2 linked regions of the Homo sapiens genome follow. The protein of the gene in region 2 interacts with the protein of the main gene of each other region in a pairwise test. Each region holds a gene or a part of one and is shown on either strand. Other genes may lie near its edges.

Region 1 (7,035 bases), on a different chromosome or scaffold from region 2:
CTAGAACAGTAAAACCCTGATATGGTTTGCTGCTATGTGCCCACCCAAATCTCATTTTGAATTGTAGCTTCCATAATTCCCACATTGTGGGAGGGACCCAGTGGGAGGTAATTGAATCATGGGAGTGGGTCTTTCCCATGCTGTTCTCATGATAGTGAATAAATCTCACAAGATTTGATGTTTTTATGAATGGGAGTTCCCCTGCACACGCTCTCTTGACTGCTGCCATTTAAGACATGACATTGCTCCTCCTTTGCTTTCCGCCATGATTGTGAGGCCTCCCCAGCCATGTAGAACTGTGAGTCGATTAAACCTCTTTCCTTTATAAATTACCCAGTCTCGGTATGTCTTTATTAGCAGTGTGATAACAGACTAATATTACACTGGAGGCCCAGGTGGCAACAGACTATGGGTGGGTGAGTGATAAGTCACCAGGAACAAGAAAACTAAGTTTAAGCTTTTGGGAGCCAGTCGGCATGAGAAATCAGAGAGGGAATGAATCAGAACCAAAGTGAGAAGCCAGAGTTGGGAGCAAGTTGAAAATCAGAAGCCGAGCAGAAAAACACAAACACATGCCAGAGGGCACAACCCGGCCAAAGTCCAGGTAAACAGAGCAGAAATCTGGAAATCTACGAAAAATACCAGACAGATGAAGAGATCTTGAAAACTTGGTCTACCCTGTTGTTTAGGGTCTGTCAGTAGATTTGCTCTTTGGAAAGGGATCAAGATAGAGGGGACTGGATAGTGTCTGAGTCCAGACAGAGTCTGACACTAATAATTAGTGGAAAAGGGATTTAGGCCTCATCTGCATACTTCAGTGGGCATAATATAAAAGAGCTAAGTTGAAGCACACTCACCGGGATGAATTGATGATAATGAGATCTCCCTGTTTGCCAACTTCCAACGATCCGTGTGTGTGAGACTTTCCCAGTGCATAAGCTGCATTGATGGTGGCAGCGGCCAAGGCCTCAGGCATGGACATTCTCATGTTTACACAGGCCAGATGCATGACCATTGGCTAAGGCAGGAAGAGAAAAGTGTTGGAGGAAAGTGACATATGGCAACTGCAATTTAAAACATTTCTCAACACAGCACAACAAATAGAGGCAGTTAAAGGTATAGGAGGAATTGGCTCAGTTGCAATGGGAAAAATCTAAGTTTATACATAAAGATTCTTAGACTTTGGAAAAGATTACTTTATTATAGGGATTGCGTATTTAATATTTATTGACAACTTTTCAAGACCACTTACTGCACACAATGAAGTTCACTTCCATACTTACTAAGACCTCTTGGAGTTTATGCTATTCTCTGGAGAAAGGAAATGGGTTACTGTAAAACTACAATACTCAAAGCTGAATCAGAAAATAATGCATGTAGAAGCTTCTCTCCTCTCTCTATGCCTGCAGGCATTTATGTGGGACAGAAAAATCCAATTACACTGCTGTCTACCCCTTTTTTTCTTGTTTCACAGAAAAATATTTTTAGATTTTTTATACTGTTTTAAAAGCTAGTGAAATATTTTTAAATTATTTATATGCTTGGTAGATACTCTGCTCAGAAAGGTACATGAAAAAAATAATTACCATTGAAAAGCAATATGCATTGGGGTTGAAATCACTTCCCAGAGCAACTATTACTCCTTCATCTAACATCTTCCTGGCTCGAGGTTGTTTCAGTCTAAGGGGAGGAAAAAAATATGTCAGTCTCTAGAATGGGAGCTTTTGTAGAATAGCTGTTCAGAACAGAAGAGAACTTGAGACAGTCAACGCCTTCATATTCTGGAAGAAGAAGCAGAAACTCAAGATTAAATGATTAGTGGTAGAGTTACATATATAATCCAAGGACTCCTGATTTTTATCATTCTGCTTTTGCAGTTACTTAGATATGACTAACATTTAATTAATGATTGTTTATCTCATCCATCTTTTTACATATTAAGGCATTCTTGCAAAGGGAGGAAAATATAACTTACAAATGGTTTTGGAATTTAATAAGCTTTTTGGTGACTCCCAAATTAAATAATAAATGAGGTTACACTATGCTTTTTTTTTTTTTTTTTTTTTTGAGATGGAATCTCTGTCTCTTGCCCAGGCTGGAGTGCAGTGGCACGATCTCGGCTCACTCCAACTTCTACCTTCTGGGTTCAAGCGATTCTCCTGCCTCAGCCTCCCGAGTAGTTGGGACTACAGGCACCCACCACCACGCCCAGGTAATTTTTATATTTTTAGTAGAGATGGGGTTTCACCATGGTGGCCAGGCTGGTCTCAAACTCCTGACCTCAGGTGATCCACCCACCTTGGCCTCCCAAAGTGCTGGGATTACAGGCATGAGCCACTGTGCCCAGCCACAATATGCTATTTTTATTAGTTTCCATTTTGCAATTTCCTATTCACATCTCTCCCTTTGCCCTCTTTTTTTTTTTTTTTTTTTTTTTGCCTCAAACATCTCTGTAGGTCCTTTAAAATCTTGAAGGCCCAAGAATTTAGTGTGTAAAATGTTTATACTTCTTCCTGGATTAGGCATCCCCTTGACCTCCCTGGTGAAATATTCTTTATTCTTTAAGACATATCTCAAAAGTGTTACATCAAAAATAAACAAAGCCTAAAAGCTCGTTAAAGCAATGAGGACAGATTTAATTTGGGAATAACAGCTGCAATAGAGAAAGAGTCCAGCAGAGATAATTCTCATCCTAGAGTCACTCCCAGTCTATGATCGATCATTTGTAGGACCACTTAAAATGTTTTTCAACAACGTATGAGAGGAGGTGAGTGAAGCAGAGACAGAGAGTGAGGAAAGGGTACAGCTTCAAATGTCCCTGCAAGTCATTTGAATGGCCCTCCCCCCCTTCCATAAATACTTAGGGGTAAAAGAGGAAAAAGTGAGGCTGTAAAAGTATTAGGGCACTCCATAAAAACCAAGGTGAATATTTCCTGAATACATTTAAATATTACATGCAAATTTACATAAAATACATGATTAAAGCAAGCCCTTAAGTAGCATAAGGCAATGGTTATTCTGGAAATGAGAGTCAAGAGAGGGTTCAGGGGAGAGCAGGGGGCCCTGCTGGTCTCTCCTGATGCAGAGATCAGAAAAATATAGAAACGAGAAGCCAGAAAGCAGAGTGTGGCCTTCACTTCGACTGCCCCTGTGGTCCTAATAGGAGGCTAAACCTGTCTGTGGCAATGGCAGATGACAGCCTCCGCTGGTATAGGAACAAAGTTCAGACTTTTAATGCTGAATTGCCCTCCAGTACCACAAAGTCTTAGGCTTTTGCTCCATGTCAAGAGATTCAAGACTAGTTAAAGAAAGGCCTTTTTTTTTTTTTTTTTTAAGATGGAATCTCACTCACTCTGTTGCCCAGGCTGAAGTGCAGAGGTATGATCTTGGCTCCCTGCAACCTCTCCCTCCTGGGTTCAAGGGATTCTCCTGCCTCAGCCTCCCGAGTAGTTGGGACTACAGGCGCGCGCCACCATGCCCAGCTAAATTTGTATTTTAATAGAGACGGAGTTCAACCATGTTGGCCAGTCTGGTCTTGAACTCTTGGCCTCAAGTGATCTGCCCACCTCGGCTTCCCAAAAGTACTGGGATTACAGGCGTGAGCCACTGTGCCCAGCCGAAGAAAGCCTTTTCTTTCCAAAAAAATAAAAAACAAAAAACTTATTTCTTGGGTGGTGGAGACAAATATTGATTGATGACTTAGACTGATGACACTTGAAATGTATAAGACGTTGGTCATACCAAGAACCGTTATTGATATTTCCTGATTATAGTCTACATTGTGTTTACTCTTTAAGAGAATAGTAATAATAATAAAAATGTATAATATCATACATGTGCATATAAAATCATAGTAGATTTGAGAAAAGCACTGAAGTATTCCTTTCTTCGCCCTTCTAAAAGTTACTTGGAGCCTGGTCTTACCTAACCTCAGTACAATTCATGTCTTGGGCTGGATAATTCTTTGTTTTGGGAGCTGTTCTGTGCAATGAGGACTGTTTAGCAGCAACCCTGGCCTCTACCCACTAGATGCCAGTAGCATCCCCTAGTTGTGACAACTAGAAATGTCTCGAGACATTGCCAAATGTCCCCTGAGGGACAAAATTACCCTGGGGTTGAGAACCACTGTCTTAACTGCAGAATCACTCCCCATGAAAAAGACCACATGTCCTAGCTACACAGAAAGCACCTAGTCCTAAGAGAAGATAAACTTCCTCTTGACTGCTGGCCTCCCAGACCACAATCTTGGATATCATATAAGTAAGTGGTACAATGGGAAGTGTCAGAAGACCTCAGATCTCATATTGGTTAGAATCAGAGCAACAGTAATAACAGACGAACTAAGTATATTCAATTCATAGACAGCATACAGCAAAATATCTGGGGAGATTTTATAAAATATATGTCTCCTCTTTCCTCCCACCCCCAGGATTTATAAAGATTTATGGCAATTATGGTACCCACTAACATCCCTTTAGAAAACAGCTCATGCAGATTCTGAATACTGCTAAATATCTTTAACATCTTATGCATATATTTAAAAGTATAGCACCTATTTCATTATTTACTAATTATAAAAGTAATGCATAGTAATTCTTTTTAATTGAAAAATTCCAAAATCCATGAAAAAAAAGAAAAAGAAAAAGAAAGCACCATCTTCCTCAATAATCCTGCCACTCAAAGGCAATCTGGGTCTAAGTTCCTTCCTCAGAGAAATTCGTTTACGAACATCAGTCCAGGGTTGGCATCTTCATTAGCTGAGTTTTCTTCATCTGCATTTTTAAGGGATTTGTAAGGGCAATGAAATAATGTCTGGGCACTTTGGACGTCTGTGTCTTCACAGCTTGTACTTGCAGCTCTTGGTCTGGGGTGAGAAACGACCTTACCTCAGCATGTAGGCTGTGGTGGGCAGAAGGATGGCAGAGCACCTGGCCGTTGCCATGGCAACGATGCCTTCATCACTCACTTCTTCCAGGTGGCTGATTGCCTGCGCTCCCAGTTCAGCCCCAAGCTAAGGAGAATGGGCAGAGAGGGAAAGATTTAACAAATAGCAACAACGAATCCATGAAGTTCCATTAAATTGCTTTGTTTGTTTTATTTTTGAGACGGAGTCTTGCTCTGTAGCCAGGCTGGGTGCAGTAGTGCAATCTCAGCTCACTGCAACCTCCGCCTCCTGGGTTCAAGCAATTCTCCCACCTCAGCCTCCCGAGCAGCTAGGGCCACAGGCGTGTGCCACCATGCCCAGCTAACTTTTGTATTTTTAGTAGAGATGGGGTTTCACCATGTTGGCCAGGATAGTCTGGATCTCTTGACCTCGTGATCCGCCTGCCTCGGACTCCAAAAGTGCTAGGATTACAGGCGTGAGCCACCGAGCATGGCCTAAATTGTTTTTCCCATAAAGAGAAACAGCGTTTTATTATTAAGATTTCTTGCCAACCAACCGTTGTAAGCCCAATCCCCCAAATGGGTAAAGGGTTTGTAATGGGCACTCATTTGAAAATTAGCTAGTGGGCTACTTCAAAAACTATTCTTAAACACAAATCCTTCAGACATTTTCTGAAACAGAAAACTTTATGAATCTTATGGATCAGAGGTGAGATAAGGGGATCTAGAGCTATTTGGGAGAATTGGGAGGAATTGGTGTTTGCATGAAATGCGGTAGGTGAGGGAGAGGCAGCAGTCAAAATGATATCCAAGATTTTGACTTAAGCGACAGACAGGTGATGGCGTCATTTACTGAAGCAGAAAATGGGACAAGACTTGGAAGAAATACGAAGAGATCAAGCTGGATATAAGCCAGTTAAGAGGCATGCAGGTGGGGTATCTATGTCTGTATTTATGCCCCAAGGGCTTGTTTATTTAGGTCTCAGGCTTTAGAGGAGAGAAGCCTAGACTCATGATTGTAGGGACTTTGTCTTACTGCTGATTTCTCAATGCCTAAAACAGTGCCTGGCACACAGTATTCATTCAAATATTTGTTGAAAGGATGAATAAGTGAATTAATTTGAGCAAAGATATATGGATTTGAAAATCATCTTGTGGCTATTTTTGGTGTGCTCCACTAAAATGATTTGGATGCTGCCACAGAAAGATCTGAAAAGGTACAAGTGAAATTAATATACTGTGCTAGTGTGGCTTTGTGTGCCAAGCAAAATACTTTAGAAATTTAGTAAAAGAGATCACTGAGGTAATTCTTTTTCTTTTCTTTCCTTTTTTTTTTTGAGATGGAGTCTTGCTCTGTCCCCCAGGCTGGAGTGCAGTGGCATGATCTCGGCTCACTGCAACCTGTGCCTCCCAGTTCAAGCAATTCTCCTGCCTCAGCCTCCCGAGTAGCTGGGATTACAGGCGCGTGCCACCACGCTAATTTTTTATATTTTTAGTAGATATGGGGTTTCACCGTGTTAGCCAGGCTGGTCTCAAACTCCTGACCTCGTGATCAACCCACCTCGGCCTCCCAAAGTGCTGGGATTACAGGTGTGAGCTACCGCGCCCAGCCAATTCTTTTGCTATTAATACTAATATCACCAGTGGATGATAATGAAAGTAAATCATCAGCAAAAAAGTAAGTTTTTAATAGAGGTCAGGGTTTTCAAGTCTCAACCAGACCAATCTGTACATTGTTCAAACAAATTTCCCCATTCAATATCTTTTCAGAGGGCTTTGAAGAAACTAATTAAGTTTCCCATAGCATGAATGTGCAAGAATGAATGTTGACGAGGGAAAAACTAAAAGTCAACCACACCTCAGCAGCCTTCATCGGGTGGAGTTCATCCCCATGGAAGTTAATCTGTAACCCTATATCTTTTCCACGTTGAAGAATCCTTCTGGTGGAATCGAGATCAAAGACACCTTTCTCACAAAATACGTCTATATTGTCCACGTGTATTTCCCCATTTCTGCCAAGTTCCTTCAGCTTTGGGAGGTGGTTATTGATGATGTCATCAGCAGCTTCAGTAGCAGTTTTTCCTCTGGGGAAGAAAATGAGATTGCCATGGGCAAATATTAAAAACAAAACACAAAAAGACAGGGTAATCT
Region 2 (7,035 bases):
GTTAAATCCTTAAGCTCTTGAAGGCTGTGCATCTGCATCCACTGAATTATAGCAAGGTTTGTTTCTTAAGGATTTTAGCAGTACCTCCTGAGGAATTAAAATGTCATCCTTGAGTTGACTTCATAGAGATACATTGCTTACACTGAGAAGAAATGACTACTATTATTTTTTAAAGATAATATAAGTATTATATTTTATCTTAACCCCTTTAATGGGGTAGTTTGTGTAATTGGAAAACATGGGACTATAGTTGCATTGAATTCAAGGTGACATTTATTGAGACCCTACATTGGAAAAGGTAGGATTCTGATAATTATGTAAGATGATTAAGTGTTAGTCTTTACTGCCGTAGGAGCTCAGAATCCAGGAGCAAATATACATACATAATGGAAATACAGGACAGTCTCTGCTAAGTTCTGTAAAAACAAGTGCTATTGAAATTGAGAATAAAAAGAGTGTAAGTCTAATTAAGGGAAATCTGACTATCTTAGAATGCTTCCAACGGTAGGTGGTTATGAGCTGGGCCTTAAAGAATGGCCCCAAATAAGGAAGGTAGTTTTTGAGGAAGGGTTTTTCTGGCAAGAAGTCAGCCCAGTGGAGGAAGGTGGAAAGGAAAGTTTCAGGTGTATTCCATTACCTGGGAGCAGACATGAATGAATGGAATGTAAGAGGGTAGAATGGGAGATCGGATGGGAGAGTTCAGTTGGAGAGCATGTCATGGAGAGCTTTGAATGGCAGTCTGGGTAATTTTTTTTTTTTTTGAGATGGAGTCTTGCTGTGTTGCCCAGGCTGGAGTGCAGTGGTGTGATCTCGGCTAACCGCAACATCCGCATCCCAGGTTCAAGGTATTCTCCTGCCTCAACGTCCCAAGTAGCTGAGATTACAGGCGCTGCTACTTTGCCCGGCTAATTTTTCATATTTTTAGTAGAGATGGGGTTTCACCGTGTTAGCCAGGCTGGTCTCAAACTCCTGACCTTGTGATTCACCTTCCTCAGCCTCCCAAAGTGCTGGGATTACAGGCTTGAGCCACCACAACCAGCTCAGTCTGGGTAATTTTTAAAATGCAGAATCATAAAGGTTTTCGAGCAAGAGAATGATGTGTGATCAGCTCTAGGTTTTTGTTTTTTGTTTTTTTTTTTTTAAAGACAGTCTCGCTCTGTTGCTTAGGCTGGAGTGCAGTGGCACAATCTTGGGTTCAGCGATTCTTGTGTCTCAGCCTCCCAGGTAGCTGGGATTACAGGCATGCACCACCACGCCTGGCTAATTTTTGTATTTTTTTTTAGTAGAGACGGGGTTTCACTATGTTGGCCAGGCTGGTCTTGAACTCCTGGCCTAAAGTCATCCACCCGCCTCAGCCTCCCAAAGCACTGGGCCACTGCACCTGGCCCAGCTCTGGTTTTAAGAAGAGAACTCTTGGCTGGGCGCGGTGGCTCACGCCTGTAATCCCTGCACTTTGGGAGGCCAAGGTGGGCGGATCATGAGGTCAGGAGATCGAGACCATCCTGGCTAACATGGTGAAACCCCATCTCTACTAAAAATACAAAAAAATTAGCTGGGCATGGTGGCGGGCACCTGTAGTCCTAGCTACTCGGGAGGCTGAGCCAGGAGAATGGTGTGAACCCGGGAGGCAGAGCTTGCAGTGAGCTGAAGATCGTGCCCCTGCACTCCAGCCTGGGTGACAGAGTGAGACTCCGTCTCAAAAAAAAAAAAAAAAAAAAAAAAAAGGAAGAGAACTCCTTTTAGGTAGATTGGGAGAAAGACAGCAAGGGGATCTACTAACACTATTGTGTTTAACCAAGGGAGAAATGCTGAAAGCCTGAAGAAGTGGTAGGAGTAGAAAAGAGGGGCCGATGTGAGGAATGTCATAGATTCAACAGCTGATTGCTTCCTTGGCTGACAGCATACAGGAGATGAAGGAGAGAAAGGAGTTGACAGTCGTCTCAGGGTCTCTGGCCGGTTGTCTGAGAGAATGAGGTATACTGAAGGAGAAGCTGACAGGAAGGGAGAAGAGGGGAGATGATGAGCTCGATTTTATAGTTTAGAGCAAAGGAATCATTGGATAACCCAAAAGAGCTGTCCAGCAGGCAAAGGGAAATGTGGGTTTGCAGCTGAGAAGGAGGGAGGTAGCTGAATGTAGAGATCTGGGGATTGTTTGCTTGGATGGTGGCTCTGGGTATGGGGATGAATAAGATGCCTTGGTAGGGTGGGACCAGCAATACAGCTATGGGCAGAATCCTAGGAAACGGGCAGAGTTGAGGGATAAGCTGAGGAACAAGAGGGTGTGAAGAGCCGAGAGGAAGCAGTATGTGATAAAGGAGGACCTGTGGAGAGTTGTGTGAAGTGGGGAGAGAACTTTCCTGGCCCTGCCATTTATTTACCTGCCTTGCCATCGGCAAGTAGACTAAGCTCTTGGGCCTTACCTTCCAGTGAAATCAGAAAGTTAGACTACATAAACTTTACAGGCTCTTCAATGAGAAAAGATCTTAGGAAAAAAAATTGAAATCAATTCAAATGGATATTGTGGTTTTCTCTGAATCCCTCTAGCTGTTTGTTCATATCACTCATCTAACACTGAATACAGACTGCTGTGTGTTGATGTTTTATACTTCTGTGTAAACTTTTGAGCCGTGACAGATGGTGTCACTCCCATTCTTGATTATTCATTTGTTCACTCATTCATGTCTAACATATCTGCTGTGTGCATCCTACATGCTGCTATATACTCAGTGCTAGGAGCACAGTGAGCAAGGCACAGTCCCAGAGCCTCAGTGGCTTAGAGGGGTTAACTAACAAGAAAAAACGCAATTACAGCTCAGGAAGAAAAAGTTCCTATCCACAACAATAGAACATGTGTTGTATTTGAGTAAAAGAGAAAAAATGATTAGGAATCACTTTACTTAAATATTTTTACTGCTATAGGAAGACAGATGGCTTTCTTAACATATGAATCAAAAATTGGGGTGTTTTGATAAACTTCAAGTAATTTAAGAAAAGCCTAGTGAGTGATGTTGAATCACTTTTACCAACTGATAAAATATTTGAACTATCATTTTCACAATAACCATTAGTTGAATGATTCATATAATTGATATAAGCAGTGTTTCACAAGTACTTGAAACAAGTAAATCCTATAAAAATTCAACATATAAATAACTGGAAAGTAAAAAATGAGTTTTTAACAAGTAGGATAATTATTTTCTTGGATGTCAGTAACGAGAAAAATATGTGGAAATGAAGCAAAAATGCAATCTTCTAAGACTTTCCTTAGCTGTCAAAACCTAGGGAGGGCCAGGCACGGTGGCTCACGCCTGTAATCTCAGTGCATTATTTGAGTCCAGGAGTTCAAGACTAGCACCTGGGCAACATGGCAAAACCCCATCTCTATTAAAAATACAAAAATTAGCCAGGCATGGTGGTGCGCACCCGTAATCTCAGCTACAGTGCACACCTGTAATCTTGGCTACTTGGGTGGCTGAAGCATAAGAATCACTTGAACCCGGGAAGCAGAGGTTGCAGTGAGCCGAGATTGCGCCACTGCACTCCAGCCTGGGAGACAGAGCGAGACTCTGTCTCTAAAAAAAAAAAAAAAAAAACTGAGGGAGAACTTTACTGGTAAGAAGTTGTCTTCCACTCCTAAAGAGGAAATCACTTTTTTTTTTTTTTTTTTTAAGAGACAGGGTCTCACCGTGTTGCCCAGACTAGCCTTGAAGTCCTGGGCTCAAGCAATCCTCCAGCCTCAGCCTCCCCAGTAGCTAGGATTACAGGTGTGCACCACCACATTCATCTGGAAATCGCATTTCTGATTGTATTATTCTTTCTAAAGAGGGGCTTGCTTATAAGCTTTCCTTCTACGTTATAATGTGAGGACACATTGGGACACAAGCGTACAAAGTACAATTCATTCATTATTCAACACATATTTATCGAATTCTCACAAGGTGCCAGACAGTTGCCATTCTCCAATTAGGAATAGGTTAGTGAGCAGGACACAGTTCCTGTGCTGCCAGGAGGGAGAGAGAGACGATAAGAAACACACCTGGCTCACACCTGTAAGCCCTGCACTTTGAGAGGCTGAGGCAGAGGAGGATCTCTTGAGGCCAGGAGTTGTAGACCAGCCTGGGCAACAAAGGGAGACCCCATCTCTACAAAAATACAAAAATTAGCCAGTTGTGATGATGTGTACCTATAGTCCCAGCTTCTTGAGAGGCTGAGATGGGAGGATTACTTGAGCCCAGGAATTTGAGGCTATATTGAGCTATGATTGTGCCATTGCACTCCAACCTGGGTGACAGAGCAAGACCCTGTCTCTAGGAAAGAAAAGAAAAGAAACATTCCAGATAATGAGAAGTGCTATGGAGAGAATTAAAATAGGATGATGTGGTAGAGACGCCTGCCTGGCCACTTCAGGCTGGGTGGTCAGGGAATGCCCTTTGAAGAGGTGAGAGTAAGACAAGACCGGAATGACAGGAAGGACGCAGCTGTGCAGAGACCTGGGGAGAGGAGAGACTTCAAGGCAGAAGGAACAGCTCAGCGATAGTGCGCTAAATCTTTCCTTGCTTTAATTTGAATGCACTGACAAATCCTCCTCTTCCTTTGGGGCTCCAGCGAAAGGTTTTTAAGTGTAATTTTATGACTGATATTCCCAGAGAGTGAACTGACAGGCTAGGAGTGACGATAAAAGCGGGTGTGTGGAAGAAAACAGGGCAGAGACCAGGATGAGGCAAATGAGATGCTTCAGGCACAAAATGTAAGGCCATGCAGTGCAAATGACTCACAGAGTTCTGCCTCCCTGCATTTTGCACCCTAAGCACTTCGCTAGCCTCACTCTTGTCACAGCCCTGGGAAGAAGGGAGAAGTAGAGTTGTGAGATATGCTGGTGCTTTGAAGATCCAGCAGGTTTGGGTGTAGAGGGGGAGATAAAATGGAAAACATTAAAACAGCCTAGGAGGAGGACCGCCCCCCCCCCCCCCCATATACATACTTCCAGCCCCAGGACCCGGATCCCACACAGCAGCCCTCCGCCTGGGGGCACCCTTCACAGCTTCTCAGGATGATAGACTGTCATGCCCCACGAGTCTGGGTACGTTTCTTTAGCTTCTTGAGTTCATAACTGGACTGGCAGTGTGAGAAGCACACAAGGCCACCCTGTGTGGCACCTGTGACAGCAGGCATGCCAGATTGCCTGCCATTGGTTAAGGAGACAGCTGCCAAGACCTGAAGGGACACCACTGCTTATCGAGGGTATCTTTCTATAAGGATTCTACTGCTACCATCTTTTACAGATAGGTGTCAAGTAAAAGTTGTCTGTGTTGGGAAATTCCCAGAAAGGTGATCTGTTGGGTGAGTTCCTCCCTGGCCTCCTACAGAGCCAGCTAAGGACAAGCTGAAGGATAATGGCAGCATGGCAGGAACAGGCGATCTGAATTAGGTGACAGGGAATGATTTTCAGCCTCAGCGTTGCAGTATTGTGTGCCTGAATCAAAATACCACCACTCCCTATTTTTTGTGTGCTAAATTTTAAAGGATTATTACATTACCACACTGTGGAATCTCTTTTGTTTGTTATCCTTTAAAAAAATGCTGTTTTCTTTTTTTCTTTTTAAAAGAATATGGATTGTGCTCAGTTCCGTTTGAAAATAAGCTCTATCTAGTCGGCGGACAAACTACAATCACAGAATGCTATGACCCTGAACAAAATGAATGGAGAGAGATAGCTCCCATGATGGAAAGGAGGATGGAGTGCGGTGCCGTCATCATGAATGGATGTATTTATGTCACTGGAGGATACTCCTACTCAAAGGGAACGTATCTTCAGAGCATTGAGAAATATGATCCAGATCTTAATAAGTGGGAAATAGTGGGTAATCTTCCCAGTGCCATGCGGTCTCATGGGTGTGTTTGTGTGTATAATGTCTAATTGAATCTGCAGAAATGACCAAGCAATCACTTTTTTGGAGTATAGTTTTATAAAAAAAGAATGCAGGGTTTGAAGTTCCTTACCTGATAATTGTGTCTGGCACATGATAGGGGATCAGTAAATTGTAATTCCTAACCCTACTGTACTCCCAAACATGGTGATTCATGGTCAAGAAAAATCTTATATATATATATATATACACACACACATATATGTGTTCATATATATGTATACATATATATGTGTATATATACGTATGTATACATATATGTGTATATATACGTATGTATGTATACATATGTGTATATATAGTATGTATGTATACATGTATGTGTATATATACGTATGTATGTATACATATATGTGTATACATATATATGTGTGTATATATATACACATATATACGTATATATGTGTATATATATACACAGTTGAATCAGTGGGATTAATACCTATAATCTCTGGTTTTCAAAGGTAATATAGAATATTTGACACTTGGTAAAAGGTGAACTACCTTTGTAGTGAATCTTTTCCTCTTGGTAGCATCAACACTGGGGATAAATCAGAACCATTCTGTGGAATGAAATGTTTCTCAAGAGCCTATAATATAGTAGATAGTGCATATTAAGATGTCTGGCTGGGCATGGTGGCTCATGCCTGTAATCCCAGCACTTTGGGAGGCTGAGGCGGGAGGATCACTTGAGCCTAGAAGTTGGAGACTAACCTGGCGAGACCCTGTCTCAAAAAAAAAAAAAAATCAATTTAGCTAGCAGGAATTTGACATTTAAAGAGGGAATCTTCTCTACCTCTACAAAATCAACCCTTAACACTTTTTTCACCTTCAGAATTATTTAGAATGTGGATTTACTTTGTCTAGTTTTTTCCTTTATAGTGTAATTTATTGTTACTCTCTATTTACTGACTACCAGAGATATACAAAATACTGTGCAAAAGATTGTTACTGTTCAAAGAGCTTACAAACTAAATTTAAAAGAATAGCAAGTCTGAAAAATAGAAGATAGTCAAATATTTGTTTATGCTAAGAACTGTTTTTAATTTTCAGCTTTGATGTAAATTGCTAGCTTAGTTGTCTTTAGTTCAAGCATGTTAGGAAATCC

Evidence for each region. Proteins that work in one complex are often made in the same cells at the same time.
Region 1: the proteins of KLHL23 (region 2) and AMDHD1 interact in binary tests that used the Homo sapiens proteins (3 or more experiments, as listed by UniProt).

Annotation. Positions count from the first base shown.
Region 1 is NC_000012.12:95,960,331-95,967,365, reverse strand, and holds part of AMDHD1 (probable imidazolonepropionase), read right to left. Parts: intron 6,969-7,035; coding exon 6,743-6,968; intron 5,012-6,742; coding exon 4,887-5,011; intron 1,681-4,886; coding exon 1,587-1,680; intron 1,019-1,586; coding exon 858-1,018; intron 1-857.
Region 2 is NC_000002.12:169,743,816-169,750,850, forward strand, and holds part of KLHL23 (kelch-like protein 23), read left to right. Parts: intron 1-5,606; coding exon 5,607-5,917; 3' UTR 5,918-7,035. Other genes in the region: PHOSPHO2-KLHL23 (kelch-like protein 23), read left to right, coding at 5,607-5,917.